Linked DNA regions of Homo sapiens: region 2 is linked to region 1. The links come from fine-mapping of genetic effects on gene expression. A gene starts in region 1. The other region holds a variant in brackets. All regions are shown on one strand. Distances are from middle to middle.

Evidence for each region. PIP is the estimated chance that this variant, and not a neighbour inherited with it, causes the effect. A credible set is the group of variants that fine-mapping cannot tell apart.
Region 2: its variant is the best candidate, but not a certain one, in a credible set for the expression of RNF11 in whole blood (INTERVAL, PIP 0.71).

Annotation. Positions count from the first base shown.
Region 1 is chr1:51,232,868-51,241,205 of GRCh38, reverse strand. RNF11 (ring finger protein 11) reads right to left here and starts at 4,933. Exons shown (of 3, transcript NM_014372.5): 1 at 4,327-4,933. The coding sequence starts at 4,449. LINC01562 (long intergenic non-protein coding RNA 1562) reads left to right here and starts at 6,110. Exons shown (of 2, transcript NR_147076.1): 1 at 6,110-6,241. RefSeq lists a silencer at 4,669-5,148.
Region 2 is chr1:51,120,300-51,128,637 of GRCh38, reverse strand. All of the region lies in intron 3 of C1orf185 (chromosome 1 open reading frame 185), which reads right to left. Among named protein-coding and RNA genes, the nearest start is that of C1orf185, 22 kb to the right of the region's middle. The variant A/G (reference allele first, on the strand shown) is at 4,692.

The DNA.
Region 1 (8,338 bases):
TGAGGCAGGAGTATCCCTTGAGCCCAGGAGTTTGAGACTAGCAACATAATGAGACCCTGTCTCTATTTTTTAAATTTAAAAAATATAAAGGGCAGGCTCAGGGGCTTACGCCTGTAATCCCAGCACTCTGGAAGGCCAAGGTGGGCAGATCACCTGAAGTCAGGAGTTTGAGACCAGCCTGGTCAACATGGCAAAACTCCATCTCTACCAAAAGTACAAAAATCAGTTGGCCTTGGTGGCGCATGCCTGTAGTACCAACTACTCCAGAGGCTGAGGCAGGAGAATCGCTTGAACCCAAGAGGCAGAGCCAAGATGACACCACTGCACTCTAGCTGGGCAACAAGGTGAGACTTGGTCTCAAAAAAGAGAAAACAAAAAAACCCAAACATATATATACAGAGAGAGACCAGCCTGGGTAACACAGGGAGGCCCAGTCACAAAACAAAAAAACAAACAAAAAAAAACCTGATCTACAATATAGAAGCAAAAATGGCACTAGGAATATGCAGAGTTCTTGTAAGCAGTGCAACTATACCTGCCTCAAATACATTAGTTCATTTAAAAGAAATCTATTCATTCGTTCAACCAAATTACTGAATGCCTAACATGTGCCAGGCACTGTTATAAGTACTTAGGAAACACCAATTAAAAAAAAAAATCCCCTTTCCTCCTTTCTACCTAGTGGGAGAAGACAGGTAATAGACAACGCAACTTTCTAACACATGTTGGAATGTAATAAATGGTATTGGGGGGGAAAACAACAGGGTGAGAGGGACTTCCAGGTTATTAGGGCAGGTTGCACTTTCAAACAGGGTGGTCAGAGAAGGTTTAAGGGGGCAGTGAGAAAAGACTTGAAGGAGGTAAGGGAGTCAGTCAGCCATGAAATCTGGGGAAGAGTATTCCAGAATAAGGAGGACAAAGGTCCTAGAATAGCAATGAGGACAGGGAAGCTGGAGGGAAGCCAACAAAGGGGTTAGCTGTAGGTGTCAAGGGACATGCGTGGAAACAAGGGGTACAGATTATGTAGGGTTTATGCGACACTATAAGGAATCTGATTTTTACTTTGAATGAAACAAGGATCCACACAGAGGGTTGGGGAGACTGTCATGCTCAGTTTTACCAAAATAACTGTGGCTGTTGTATTGAGGACAGGCCTTAGCGAGGACAAGGGTGAAAGCAGGGATAACTGTTAGGAGGCTACAAAAGAAACCATGGAAAGAAATATACACTTCCTACAAACTTGGATCATAATGGTGCAGGGATTTACTTTAAGGCAAAAATAAATAAAAACAAATTTGTCAGATGTTAATAGGAAATAACTGTAACTGGCTCTTGTCATTATATGTACATTGTACATATAAAGCAGCAAACAATGACATCTTTTAACTACTCACCTCAAGAGAACATGTTCCTTTACAATCAGCTATTCACTGTTAATTACATATAATTTGTTGAAAAAGTTACTTTTATCAACTGAGAATACTATAAATCTGCTGTGTGAGGTAGCTAACGCCTGTAATCCCAGTCTTTGGGAGGCTGAGGGAGGAGGATCACCTGAAGCCAGGAGTTTGAGGCTGCCAAGTGAGCAATCCAGTCTAACCTGGATGACAGAGGGAGATTCTCAACTCAAATAAATGAATAAATAACCTTGGATTGCTGTTTCTCAGATCATCTAAAATAACCATTCCTAAGACAGATCTTATTTCTTTGGGGGTGGGGGACAATACTTTTTCTCCAAAAGTTTCTTTTTATGCTCCCATGTTTTAAAGTAATTTTCTTCTGATTGATACTGAATTTGTATATTAGTCTGCGTCATTCACTTCAGGAAACTGCAACCATAAAAAACTCCCACTGTCAAAAATATAACATTTCCAAAAAAAGTTCCTTCATGACACCAAAAACCCCTCATCCCTCATCATCACCTAGTTCTTCTGGAAAAGGCAAACACAGTTTCCATAAATTCTAGTACCTTTAATAGTACAATTATCATAAGGATAGGAGAAAGAGAACAAGTCAAAGATATTCAATTAAGAAAGGGGATAGGAGGCAGGAGAATTTGCTTGAGGCCAGGAGTTCAAGACCAGCCTAGGCAACATAGGAGTCCCTGTCTCTATTTTTTTAAAAATAGAAGGGGGTGAGGGTAGGGAGCATAAGAGATTTTAAAATAAAAACTTCATGCCAGATGCGGTGGCTCATGCCTGTAATCCTAGCACTTTGGGAGACTGAGGTGGGTGGACTGCTTGAGGTCAGGAGTTCAAGACCAGCCTGACCAACATGGTGAAACCCCGTCTTTACTAAAAATACAAAAATTAGCTAGGTGTGGTGGCACGCGCCTGTAATCCCAGCTACTCAGGAGGCTGAGGCAGGAGAATCGCTAGAACCCGGGAGGTGGAGGTTGCAGTAAGCAGTGAGATTGTGCCACTGCACTCCAGCCGGGGTGACAGAGCGAGACTCCATCTCATTAAAAAAAAAAAGTTAAATAAGCACTTTTGTTGTATAGTAAACATAGGAGGGAAAGACAGTGAAGGATAAACATAGCTTGCTTGCTTCACTCAAAGGTACTTGTAAAGACACCCAGATTCAGCTTTGATTTTTAAGAGACTACCCTGTGACAACTTACTTTGGAAAAAATATTTGTGTAAATACAGAAAATACTAAATTCAACTTCATTAATTAATTCAGCATTTAGGTGCTTATGTGCCAGAAACTGAGCGAGGGGAGAGTCCCTGTTCTCAAGGGCTTTTACTCGTAATTTATCTCCCAGTTACTGAGTCCCTACTGAGGCAGATGCGAGGGATACAACAGCAAACCGGAAACACAGATTCTCTACCTTCACGCAGCTTGCACTGAAGGAGGCGATTACAAGGATGAGACACACATCTAACAAAGATACAACACTAAAGTGTTATAGATATTGCTTATGGAAGTGTAGAGGTTTCAGTGGGGACACAAGGGATTCGGGCTGGGAAGGAAGGGAATGCTGGGACTTCAGACATGAAAGCTGAGTTCTCAAAGAGGATTAGATGTCCACCTGGCTGACCCGGGCGAAGGGCTCCAAGCAGAGAGGAACTGGAGCAAAACAAAGCTGTGAACAGCCTGGTGTATTTGGTAGGCCTGGAATATAGAACGTAAGAGGGAGAAGTCATGGAGGCTTCTGTAATACCACAATCAAGACTGGACCTTACTGGTATATATGAAATGCCCCCAGAAGAATTTTATTCAGAAAACGAGCATATATATGATCAGGTTTTTCTGGTGTGATGAGACATTGGTTTACACAGGAATGAGAAAAGAAAACACTAGATAATGATGTCATCACATGAAACAACAAAGGAGCCTACCCAGTCAGAAAACTAAACTCTTCAGGAAGAAATTAAGCACTACTACTATTGAAGCCCTCTGGAAAAGGGTGTATTCAATATCATCTAAAATGGAAAAAGTACAGGAAAGGTTTTCACACATCTATTGTGGATTATAACATCCACATACCTATTTTGAGTTTAAGAGGTCTTCACTCGAATTCTGCAACACATCTGGGACTACTGATTATTGTACAAAAAGCAGTACAACGTATTTAGGAGAGTCTTTGATACAAAGGGAGAACACGAGTAACCGAAGGAATTTCCCAAGCCAGGTTTAAAGGTTTCCAAAGTTCAAGCTAATCAAGTTTTCTTAAGTCAGCACGTTTAAAAGGTGTGTCATATGGGTGGAGCAAAAAGAGGAGGGATTAAAATTTATATACATATATATATATATATATATACACATATATATATATATACACACACACACAAGTAACTCGATGTCGCTAGGGTTAAAATCACCACTTGGAGATCCGTCTCCCAAGCAGAGGGAAAACCTGCCAGATCCAATTAACAAAAAGACGAGGGAGGTGGGTAAGAGGACGACCACACATGAAAACATAAATGGGGCGGGGGGGTGGTGCTTGGCAACCACCTATCCAGAACCCATAATCCAGTTGGCGGTGCGATGAGGAAATCATACGATTCAGACATAAAGACAGGAAAATGTCACTCCCAAACTCCACAAGCGAACCACCAGACACTGGCCAAGGGGATGTGATCACATACTCTGATCCCAGAACTCAAGGGCAGAGGGTATCATCCCCACACGGTGCCCGAGGGCAGGCGAAGAATCAACCTTACTCTGAGATCAGAGAGCAAATGCCCTCAGATCCAGCCCTAAGGGGTCAATGCCGCCCAGGCCAGGCCTTGCCGAAGCCAGGGGCAGAGACGGCCCCGAAGCCCCCTCAATCTCCGCCAGAGCTGCCTCTACTCGCTCCCCCCAACACACACCCTCCCCTACCTGATATGGCGGCGGCGGCTCCTGATCCGGCTCCGTCCCCTCGCCAAAGCTAGCCCGGTCGGACTGAGACTCGTGAAGCAGGGAGATGTCATCCGAGGTGGGGGATTTGAGGCAGTTCCCCATCTTCCGGAGCTGGGGTGCGTGATCTGGGGGAGGAGAAAGCAGCGGTGGGGTCGTTCGCACACTCCGCGGTCCGCCTCGGTTGGCGAGGTGGGGTCGGGCGACAGGCCGGGGATCAGGCGGAGGCGACTCCACCGCCCCACGGTGCCGCCGAGGGGCCGCTCATGCCAGCCCCCGGGGTTGGGGGATCAAGGCTGGGCCGCGGGCTCCGCTGGGGTCGCGGCGTTCGCCTCCTGCGAGGCAGCGATGGGGGGGGGGGGGCGGGGAGACGAAGCACTTCCCCACCCCGCCCCCCCGCGGGGCGGCGGCGGCCACGGAGCTGCTGGGCCTAATCCAGGTCAGCGGGGGGGGGCGCGGCCGTCGCGGCTGCCTCAGCTGCTGCCTCAGCTGCTGCTGCCCCCGCCGACGCCGGAGCCACGGCCGCGGGCCTCATCCTACTCCGCCTCAGCGAGACGGCGGCAGCCAGAACGAGGCCGGCTCGGGCACTGCGTCATCGCGCCGTGCGTGCTCTGGTCCCGCCCCCGGCGCCAGGAGGCGAGGGCGGCTCCGGCGGCGCCCATCCCCCTCTCCACTAGCAGCTGTTCTCGGTGCTGCGTCAATTTTTGCTTCTCTCTGACTGCTTGGCTCCGTACCTGGCTCCGAAACCAATCTCCCGTCTCCCGCGCCTCCCCACATTCATTGCTCCTGCCCCGTCTAGGGCTCAGTTCTTACCTGTGCACTGCCTGACAGTCTTCTCACCACCCTCCGCCAAGCGGTCTATTTATATAAACCCATATCGGAATGGATCAGTCCCATGATTAAAATGTTAAAAGCTTCCCCTTTATCCCTTCACAATAAAGTCCTAGCTCGTTACTGAACCATCCCTGCCTGTCCAATCACGTCCTTATCCTTCCACATCACAGCCAGAGAGATTATTCTTCCAGTTGTATATCAGATTGTTCATTTCTTTCCAGTCCCAGCACCAAAGTCCAAGCCACCATCATCTCTCACCTTGGCTTCTGCAATAGACTCTCAGCTGTTCCTGAGTTCATCATTGCCCACATCCAATTCACTGTTGGCACAGTTGACAGAGTTATCTTTTTAAAATTTAAATCGGATCATGTCATTCTCCTGTTAAAACCTTCAGTGTCTCCTCAAGGCTGTCCTTAAGACAATCCTTAAATGGTTTACAAATCTGACTCCCTTTCAATCTCATTAGCAGCATTGTCACCTCCTTCACAAATTCTAAACTAGACTCTCTAAAATGCTTTTCGTTATCTGGAATACTATTGCCTCTGCCTGGGGCCTTTGTCCATATTGTTTCTCTCACAGAAACCCACTTCCCTCCACTCCCAACCTTTCTGCTTCTCATCAGGCTAATCATTATTCTCAGGAATCCTTCTGGATGCAACTTCATTTCCCCTGGGGAGACTCTCCTGACCCTCCAGTCTGGGTTAGTCGCATCCTGTGTGCTCTCAGACCCTGAGCTTTTCTCTGTCACAGCCTGATCAAGCTGAATCATCTGTCCCTCTGTGCAAGGCTGGCACACTGCCCAAGGTAGAGTATGCTCTCTCCTTGGTTGAATGAGCAGCTCAAACAACATATGCAAAAGAAGGAAGCAAGAAGGATGACAGTGCTCCTGATAGACGTTCATTCAACAGGTGGATCTTGACTGCCTTTCGTTTCATTCACCATTTACTGAAGTTGTGTGTGCGTGTGTATACCAGACCCCACGCTAAGGACTGGGGAAAAGGATGATCATACCTGGCTTGTTCCTGATAGAGCCCAGAGACCACCTGGGAAGACAAGTAATCAGGTGAGTCCTAAGCCCACACCCTGCCACGGACCCCAAGGTTTTTAGAGGAACTGAAAGACAGCAATTAGTTCATTTGAGTGAGGAACAGAAAGGATTCTTAGAGGTAGGGCTATATTAAACTCGAATGGGTCTGAACACTCTTACTCTGCAGTCCCTATTCTACGAAGTCACTATCTTATTTAAATGCACTCAAATTCCACATTAAATATCACCTTTTTGATATAAAATTTTTGAAAAGACTCATAATTTTGGGCCAGGCGTGGTGGCTTACGTCTGTAATCCCAGCAATTTGGGAGGTCAAGGCGGGTGGATCACTTGAGGTCAGGGATTCGAGAGTAGCCTGGCCAACATGGTGAAACCCCATCTCTACTAAAAATACAAAAACTAGCCAGGTGTGCTGGTGCACGCCTGTAGTCCCAGCTACTCGGGAGGGTGAGGCAGGAAAACCGCTTGAACCTGGGAGGTGGAAGTTGCAGCGCAGTGAGCCCAGATTGTGCCACTGCACTCTAGCGTGGGCGAGGGAGTGAGTAAGACTCAGTCTCAAAAAAAAAAGGAAGGAGAAAGAGAGAGAGAGAGAAGGGAGGCAGGAAGGAAGGAAAGAAGGAAGGGAGAGAAAGAGAAAGAGAAAAGAGAAAGAAAAGAAAGAAAGAAAGAAAAGAAAGAAAGAAAGAAAGAAAGAAAAAGAAAAAGAAAGGAAAGAAGGAAAGAAAGAACAAACTGACTCACAATTTTGGTTTTGGAATTGTTGAGCTTCCAAGAACTCATTTAATTTATGATTGGCTAAATTTACCAGAAATCAGAGGTACCCTGGAATTTTTACAAAGTGAGAAAATTTACCCCACAAATTATTGTCAAACCTAAAGAAATTTTTATTAATAATAATTTATACAATTATTTGACATAATATTTACACAGTGCTAGAATTTGTAGACATTGTTTGTTTGTTTTGGAGACAGGGTCTCACTCTGTCACCCAGGCTGGCTTGATCGAGGCTCACTGCAGCTTCAACCTCCTGGGCTCAGGTGATCCTCCTGCTTCAGGCCTCTCCAGTAACTAGAACTACAGATGCACACCACCATGCCTTGCATTTGTTTTTGTTTTTGGTAGAGACGAAGTCTTGCCATGTTGCCCAGGCTGGTCTCAAACTCCTGGGCGCAAGCGATCCTCCCGCCTCAGCCTCCCAAAGTGCTGGAATTACAGGTGTGAGCCACTGTATGCCTGGCCAGACATAGATTTATTTAGTTAGTTTTAATTTTTTTTAATTTTTATTTTTTGAGACAGAGTTTTGCTTGTGTTGCCCAGGCTAGAGTGCAATGGTGCGATCTTGGCTTACCGCAACCTCTACTTCCCCGGTTCAAGCAATTCTCCTGCCTCAGCCTCCTGAATAGCTGGGATTACAGGCGCGCACCACCACGCCCAACTAATTTTTTGTATTTTTAGTAAAGACGGGGTTTCACTATGTTGGCCAGGCTGGTCTCGAACTCCTGACCTCAGGTGATCCACCCACCTTGGCCTCTCAAAGTGCTGGGATTATAGGCGTGAGCCAGCTCGCCAGGCCAGATTTATTTTTTTAAGTTTTGTTTTTCATTCTTTTTTTCCACAGGTGGGTAACACTGACACAAGCCCTTGAAAAGTTCTATAGTGCCTTGTGAAAATAAGTTATATTGTTAAGTTTAAAACTAGCTTGGGCTGGGTGCAGTGGCTTACGCCTGTAATCTCAGCACTTTGGGAGGCCGAGGCGGGTGGATCACGAGGTCAGGAGTTCAAAACCAGCCTGGCCAATGTGGCGAAACCCCATCTCTACTAAAAATACAAAAATTAGCCGGGCATGGTGGCATGCACCTGTAATCCCAGCTCCTCAGGAGGCTGAGGCAGGAGAATCACTTGAACCTGAGAGGCGGAGGTTGCAGTGAGCCGAGATCACGCCATTGCACTCCAGCCTGGATAACAGAGTGAGACTCCGTCTCAGTAAACAAACAAACAAACAAGGCTAGTTGTTCACCAGAAGATGGGAGGAGCATTTGAAGCCCATTAATGGCTTGGACATGGTCCCTGCCTTCAAATAGCTCAAACTCAAGTAGATGAGACAAGTAGGTG
Region 2 (8,338 bases), 110 kb after region 1:
CACTGCAACCTTTGCCTCCCAATTTCAAGCGATTATCCTGCCTCAGCCTCCTGACAAGCTGGGATTACAGGCAAGCACCACCACACCTGGCTAATTTTTTTTATTTTCAGTAGAGATGGGATTTCGCCATACTGGCCAGGCTGGTCTTGAATTCCTGATCTCAGGTGATCTGCCCACCTTGGCCTCCCAAAGTGCGGGGATTACAGGAGTGAGCCACTGTGCCTGGCTTTACACCCACTAAAATAGCTAAAATTAAAAATACTAATAACACCACCATATGTTGGCAAGTCCATGGAAAATTGAAACTCTCACTTATTGCTGGTGGGAGTGAAATAAGTTACAATCACTTTGGAAATCTGCTCAGCAGTTTCTTATAAATTTACATGTATGTCTCCCCAAGCCTTGACAATTCCAGGTTCAGGTACTTTCCCATGAAAAATGAAAATACAGGCTGGGCGCGGTGGCTCACGCCTGTAATCCCAGTGCTTCGGGAGGCCAAGGTGGGTAGATCACTGGAGGTCAAAAGTTCTAATCCAGCCTGGTCAACATGGTGAAACCTGATCTCTACTAAAAATACAAAAAGTTAGCTGGGCGTGGTGGCACGCGCCTATAGTCCCAACTACTCGGGAGGCTGAGGCAGGAGAATCGCTTGAACCCAGGAGGTGCAGGTTGCAGTGAGCTGAGATCACGCAATTGCATTCCAGCCTGGGTGACAGAGCGAGACTCTATCTCAAAAAAAAAAAAAAAAAAAACAAAGAAAAGAAAAATGAGAATATATGTTCACTAAAAGTATGTGGTTGTTTAGAGTAGCCTTATTCATAGTAGTCAAAAACTAAAAACAACCCAATATCCGTCAACAAGAGAATGCATAAAATGTTCCTATAATGGACTACCACTTATCAATAGAAAGAACAAAGTTCTAACACACACAATAACATGGGTGAGCCCCAAAACTTTTATTAAGTGAGAGTAATCAGACATAAAAGATATAATTTAATTTATATATAATTTAGGAACAGATAAAAACTAAACCTTGTCAGAAATCAGAAAGCTGCTGGGCGCAGTGGCTCACACCTGTAACCCCAGCACTTTGGAAGGCCAAGGCAGGTGGATCACCTGAGGTCAGGAGCTCGAGACTAGCCTGGCCAACATGGTGAAACCCTGTCCTACTAAAAATACAAAATTAGCTGGGCTTGGTGGCATGCGTCTGTAGTCCCAGCTATTCCGGGGCTGAGGCAGGAGAATCGCTTGAACCCAGGAGGCGGAGGTTGCAGTGAGCTGAGATTGCATCATTGCACTCCAGCTTGGGCGACAAGAGCGAAACTCCATCTCACACAAAAAAAAAAATGACAAAAAATCAGAAAGCTGATACCTGGGATGGGTAGAGGAATTGACTAGAAAGCAGACATGAGAGAATTTTCTTAGGTGATAAAAATGTTCTGTAGTTTGTTTTAGGTGTTGGTTGAATGTATATACAGCTGTCAATGTTCATTAAGTGGAATATCTAAATTCTTTGCATTCTATTGTAGGTAATTAATCTCAAAATATTTTAAAAATTGTATCAATAAAATATTTTTTAAATCACATTAATTTCACTTCAGTGGTATTCTTCCCCAAAATACATAACCCAAGTTATAAATAATGAAAAAAAAAATAAACAAACCCCAATTGAGGGACATTTTACAAACATGACCAGCACTCCTCAAAACTGTAAAGGTTAGGTTAAACAAGAAAGATGGAGATACAGTTACAGAGCAGAGGAAATTAAAGAAACAAATGCAATGTAGGATCCTGGATTAGGTCCTGAAATAGCAAAAGTACATTCACTTAAAAACTGGCGAAATCTAAATAACATCTGGAGTTTAGTTAATAATAATGTACCAGTGTTGGTTTCTTAGTTTTGACAAATATACTATGGTAACTTAAGATTTTAGCACTGGAGGAAAACTGGGTGAAGGGTATAGGAAAATTTTATATTATCTTCATGACTGTTCTATAAATCATAGATTATTCTAAAATTAAAAGGTTACTTAAAATCATTTCACAAAAGCACAAACATATACATTTTTCAGTAATACGAGTTGGGTGCAGTGGCTCATACCTGTAATAAGCACATTGGGAGGCTGAGGCAGGAGGCTCACTTGAGCCCAGGAGTTCGAGATTAGCCTCGGCAACACAGCAAGACTCTATCTCTACAATTTTTTTTTTAAAGTGGACATGGTGGTGTGTACCTGTAGTTCCAGCTACTCAGGAGGCTGAGGTAGGAGGATCCTTTGAGTCCAGGAGTTCAAGGTTACAGTGACCTATGATTTTGCCACTGCACTCCAGCCTGGGCAACGGAGCAAGACCCTGTCTCAAAAAAATTCCAGTAATAAAAACTAACAATGTAATTATAGAACCAGTTCACTCTGGTTATACTTTGTCAGTAGCAATTGTAACAAAATACTGAGTTTCTCAGTTGCAGTGGGCCCCCAGGTTGCAAGTCACACTTGAGCATGTCCAGATGAACCAATCATGCCTGATATGTGACCCAGAGCTGACCAGAATGGAAAAATTAACCACGTGCAGAACCTAAGTAACTTGAGTTGAGGAACAGGGACCCAATTAAGAAGTGAGGGGGTTCCCTGTTTTTGTTTTTTGTTTTTAGAGCTGGGGTCTCGCTATGCTGCCCAGGCTGGTCTTGAACTCCTGAGCTCAAGCAATCCACCCACCTCAGCAACCCAAAGTGCTGGGATTACAAGTATGAGCCACCGCACCTAGCTCCTGTTTTGCTGAAGTACAAATTTAAAACCCAATGACCTGGCACCTCCTCTTTGGGACCCAATCAGATCATGCCTAGTTACATTTTTCTATCTCCTTCATAGTTACTCTCTGTCTTTCAAATCTGCTCCCAGACTCCAGCTCAGGGTGACATATTTGAGCATTGCCTTCTAACTCCTTGCCCAGTTGACCTTACAATGAAGCTTTTTCTTTTCTAAAAAGCTGGTGCCATAGTATTGGTTTCTATGCATGTCAGACAGAATGCTCATTGCTTGGTAACAAAATAAGATGTGCAAGGCTTCTATAAAGTTAATTACAGCTGGGCATGGTGACTCATTCCTACAATCCAGCACTATGCCCCCTTTATAATTTAGGATAGGTTTACAAGGCCCTTCAAGAATATAGAAATAAAGTATTGCCTCCTCCTGGAAGACTTAGTGTTACTAAAAACTTAAAACTAAAAACCCTACTGCTATTAAACTTCAAGGGAATCACTAGCTGGATATATGTCCAGGATTAAGCCTGTTTCTTATAAGTCCTCACAAGCCTAAGAGGAGGATACCAGACTTATGTTTATAACCCCCTAAAAGACTGAAAGCTATTATTTCACAAATGCATAAATAGATAATGTGATGCTGTGGGTGGGCATTGGAGCATTAATTTTTCTCTTCCTTCTAATTCCTTTTCTTGTTTAACCTTCTAGTAAAGTTTATACTTTCTAGATTACACATGAAGATGATGCTGGCACAAGGCTTCCAACCGCATCCCATCTTTTGACCCTGAAAACAAAAACACCTTCCCGTTGGGCCCTTTGGGTAAGGTATCCAGAGATTTTTACTCCTCCAATGCTAGGCAGGGCCTATACCCATAAAATGAGCAAGAAGCAGTTACAGAAGATGGGCCTCTGCCCTTCCACAGACCCTTTAAGATTAAGGAAGAGTAATCTCTGAGGTGGGGAATGAGGTTAGGAAGCCAGCAGGACTTGTTTTCTGGTCACAACCCTGCTGACCAAAACAGGATCTTGTCCAGACAGAATAAAGTGAAGAAACCCATAGGAACCAGCAGATGGTGACAAAAGTGATCCCTAGCTGCCTTCATTGCTCATTAATACAAGACACTATCACCAGTGTCATGGCAGTGACCCAGAAGTTATGACCACTTTCCATGGCAATGACTCAGATATTACTGCCCCTTTCCTAGAAAGTTCTAAGTAATCCATTCCTCCATTTGCATTGATCCACTCCTTAATTTGCATGTAATTGAATGTGGGTTTACTGAGTATAATCACAGTTGATAAGAGCCCATAGGTTGCTGTCTCTGGATGTGCTGCCTATGAATTAGCCCTGATCTGCAAAGAGCAGTAATGTTCAACAAAAGATTGCTGTCCAACACCACCAGCTTGCCCTTGAATTCTTTCCTGGCTTTCTCCTAGGCTAAACCCCAGTTTTGAGGCGGCTGCCCTGCAACAAAAACACACCTTAAAAATAGTGCAAAGAGGCCAGGTACAGTGGCTCACGCCTATAATCCCAGCACTTTGGAAGGCCAAGGTGGGCGGATCACTTGAGGCCAGGAGTTCAAGACCAGGCTGGCCAACATGGCGAAACCCTGTCTCCACTAAAAATACAAAAATTAGCCGGGCATGGTGGCGGGCGCCTGTAGTCCCAGCAACTTGGGAGGCTGAGGCAGGAGAATGGCGTGAACCCAGGAGGCGAAGCTTGCAGCAAGCCGAGATCACGCCACTGCACTCCAGCCTGGGCAACAGTGCGAGACTGTCTCAAAAAAAAAAAAAAAAAAAACAAACTACAGTGAAATACCAAGAGATACAAGCCATGGGCTGGGAAAAAATATTTGCAAAGTACATATCTGATAAAGGATTATTGCTCGCTCTCTCTCTCTATATATATATATAATGTGTGTGTGTGTGTGTGTGT[A/G]TATATATACATGTGTGTATAAAATATATATTTTAAACTTGTTATATATAAGTTCTTTAAAACTTACATTCTTTAAAACTCAGCAATAAGAAAATCAATAACCTAATTAAAAATGAATGAAAGATCGAACAGACACCTCATCGAAGAAGATAGATAGCAAATAAGCACATGAAAAGGTGTTCAACATCACATGTTACTAGGGAATTGCAAATTAAAATGAGATACCACTACACATTTGTTAGAATGGTGAAACTCCAAAACACTGACAACAACAAATGCTGGTGAGAATGGGGAACAACAGGAACTCTCATGCATTGCGGGTGGAAATGCAGAGTGATATACTTTGGAAGAAAAATTGGCACTTTCTTATTAAACTACACACACTCATACCATAAGATCCCATAATTGTGTTCGCTGGTATTCATGCAAATAAGTTGAAAATTTATGTTTATACAAAAACCTCCACACATATGTTTATAGCAACTTTATTCATAATTGCCAAAACTTGGAAAAAACCAAAATGTCCTTCCATAGGTGAATGGATAAATAAACTATGGTATACAATGGAACATTATTCCGTGCTAAAAAGAAATAGGCTAGGCTATAGTTTCAATATTTGTCCCTCCAAAACTCATGTTGAAACTTAATCCACACTTAATCCACAATGTGGCAGTATTCAGAAGGTGGGGCCTTTAAGAAGTGATTGGGTCATAAATAGATTAATCCATTAATGGCTTAATGGATTAATAGATTAATGGGTTATCACAGGAGTGGGACTAGTGGCTTTCTAAGAAGACAAGAGACTTGAACTAGCACACTCAGCCCCTTCACCATGTGATGCCCTATGCCACCCCAGGACTTTGCAGAAATCCTACCAGAAAGAAGGCTTTCACCAGATGTGCCCCTCCTTGACCTTAGACTTCCGAACTCCAGACTGTAAGAAATACATTTCGTTTTTAATAAATTACCCAGTTTCAGGTATTCTGGTATGAGCAACAGAAAACAGACTAAGACAGGCCATCGAGCCATGAAAATACATGGAGAAAGCTTAAATGCACATTGCTAAGTGAAAGAAGCCAATCTGAAAAGACTACATATTGTGTGATTCCAACTATATGACAAATGTGCCTATTCTGGAAAAGGCAAAAACTTTGGAAACAGTAAAAGGATCAGGGGTTGCCAGGGGTTAGAGCAGAGGGAGGGATAAATCAGAGAAGCACAGAGGACTTTTAGGATAATGAAACCATTCTGTATGATACTGTAATGACATGATTGCACATTTGTCAAAACCCATAGACTACATAATACCAAAAGTGAACATTATTGTAAACTATGAATTTTGGATTATTATGTGTCAATGTGGGTTCATCAATAGTAGCATATGCACCTCTCTGGTGTAGGATGTGGATAGTTGGGGAGGCTGTGCCTGTGTGGGGGAAAGAATATAGTGGGACTCTGTACTTTCTGCTCAGTTTTGCTATGAATCTACAATGGCTTGAAGAAAATTAGGTAGGAAGACTATAGATACTGTTACACATCCATTAGGTTGTCAGAAATTTAGAAGCCTGAAAATGCCAAGATTGTTGAAGATATGAAGTAATCTGTGCACTTATATATATGTTGGGGGAACATATATTGACACAGCTACTTTGGAAAACAATTTGGAATTATTTAATAAGGTTGAATATGCACTTACCCTATAATGCAGCAATTCTACTCTTAGGTATAGCCTCTATAAAGATTTCATAGAGAAACAGCTGAAAACCACTCCAAACTTAATGTAAACCACAGAAAATTTGATATTTTCACACAATGGAATACCAGATAACAGTAAAAGCAATGAACTATGGCTACATACATCAACTGGAGGAATTTCAGAAATGCAATACTGCACAAAAAAGGAAAGATTAGATATGGAGTCTAAAACACATGAAATTTAATAATATATTATTCTATAACATTTATGGCAAAACTATAAGGAAAAGTAAGGAAATGATTAGCTGTAATTACAGGATAGTGGTTCCTTTAGTGGAGGGTGGGAGTTGGAGGTGTGACAGATATATAAGACTCAGAATATCTCAAAGGTACTGGTAACATTCTATTTTTATTCTGGGTAGTGAGTATAAAAAATCCATTTATTATTTAAATTTCATGTGTATGTGTATATGTATTCTTCTGTATGTATGTCATATTTCACAATAAAAGTTTTTGTTAGAAATCATTCTCTAGTTTTTTATTATATTAAACCTATTTTTATTATCATTTTATCCTCCTGCCCCATAGAGGTCTGCCTGTAGTAGAAGAGGAAGAAGCCAATACAGAGGCAGAAATTGAGATAAGAAAAACAGGGACAATACAAAAGAGTTCTTTTGTACTGAAATTGGCTGAGGTTAGCACTACCTTAAACTTTTTATACTATTTTTTTTCTTATTCTAGTTTGAATGAGGTTCCTGTCACTGAATATCAAGGATCCTGAATAACAGCCTTAAAAAAGAAGGAAACTTTGTCATTTGTGACAACCAGGGTGAACCTGGAGGACATTATATTAAGTGAAAGAAACCAGGCACAGAAAGACAAATACCCATGATTTCACTCAAATGTGGAATCTAAAAAAGTTGAACTCGTAGAAGCAGACAGTAGAATGGTGGGCTGGGATGGCAGGATACCAGGGGCTGGGGGTGGCAGGGTGACAGAGGAGATGTTGGTCAAAGGATACAAAATTTCAGTTAGATAAGAGGAATAGATTCAAGGAATCTATTGTACAACACGGTGATTATAGTTAATAACAATGTATTGTATTGTTGAAAATCACTAAGAGAGTAGATTTTAAGCGTTCTCACCACAAAAAATGACAAGTATGTGAGATAACACACGTGTTAACTAACATTATTTAGCCATTCCACAAAGTACACATATTTCAAAACATCATGTTGTACATGATAAATATATACAATTTTTGTCAATTAAAAAATAAATAAAAGAATCCTGAATTATCTTTTGTGTTTACTTGTGCATTATTTCTCTCTCCCACTACACTAAAAATTTCATAAAAGCAGGGGCTATTATCTCCCTTGGTCATCTCCAAATTCCCAGTGACCTAATACAATGCCTGGCATATAAGCACTTCTTACATATTTGTTGAATGAATAATAAACAACCTAATCAAAATTGCACTCATGACACTTTTGTAATTGTCTATTAGTGTCTATACATCGTTAAGTATGATGGTATTATTATATCATTAGTACCTAGCAAAATGCCTAGTACGTGATGGGTACTGAATAAATTAATATTAAATGCATACATAGAAACAATTTTTCTCTGCAATGCAATCTCTATTTCAAACTGTCCTTCATTCGAAAGTCAGAGGAAATAACCTTTAGAATCAATTTGATGTTTACATCCACATGCTTAAAATCTTCCAGTAAAAATAATAGTAGAATTGTACGGTGCTCACTACAGGATCAGGCACTATTCTGAGTGCTTTTTCACATAATTCCTTTAATCCCACAACAACTCTACGGAGGTGAAATTATCCTTATTTTGCAGATGAGGAAACTGAGACACAGAGAAGTTAAGTAACTTGCCTAACATTATACAGCTATTGGTGGTACAGTCAGAATTGAAATCTGTAATCTGGCTCTACA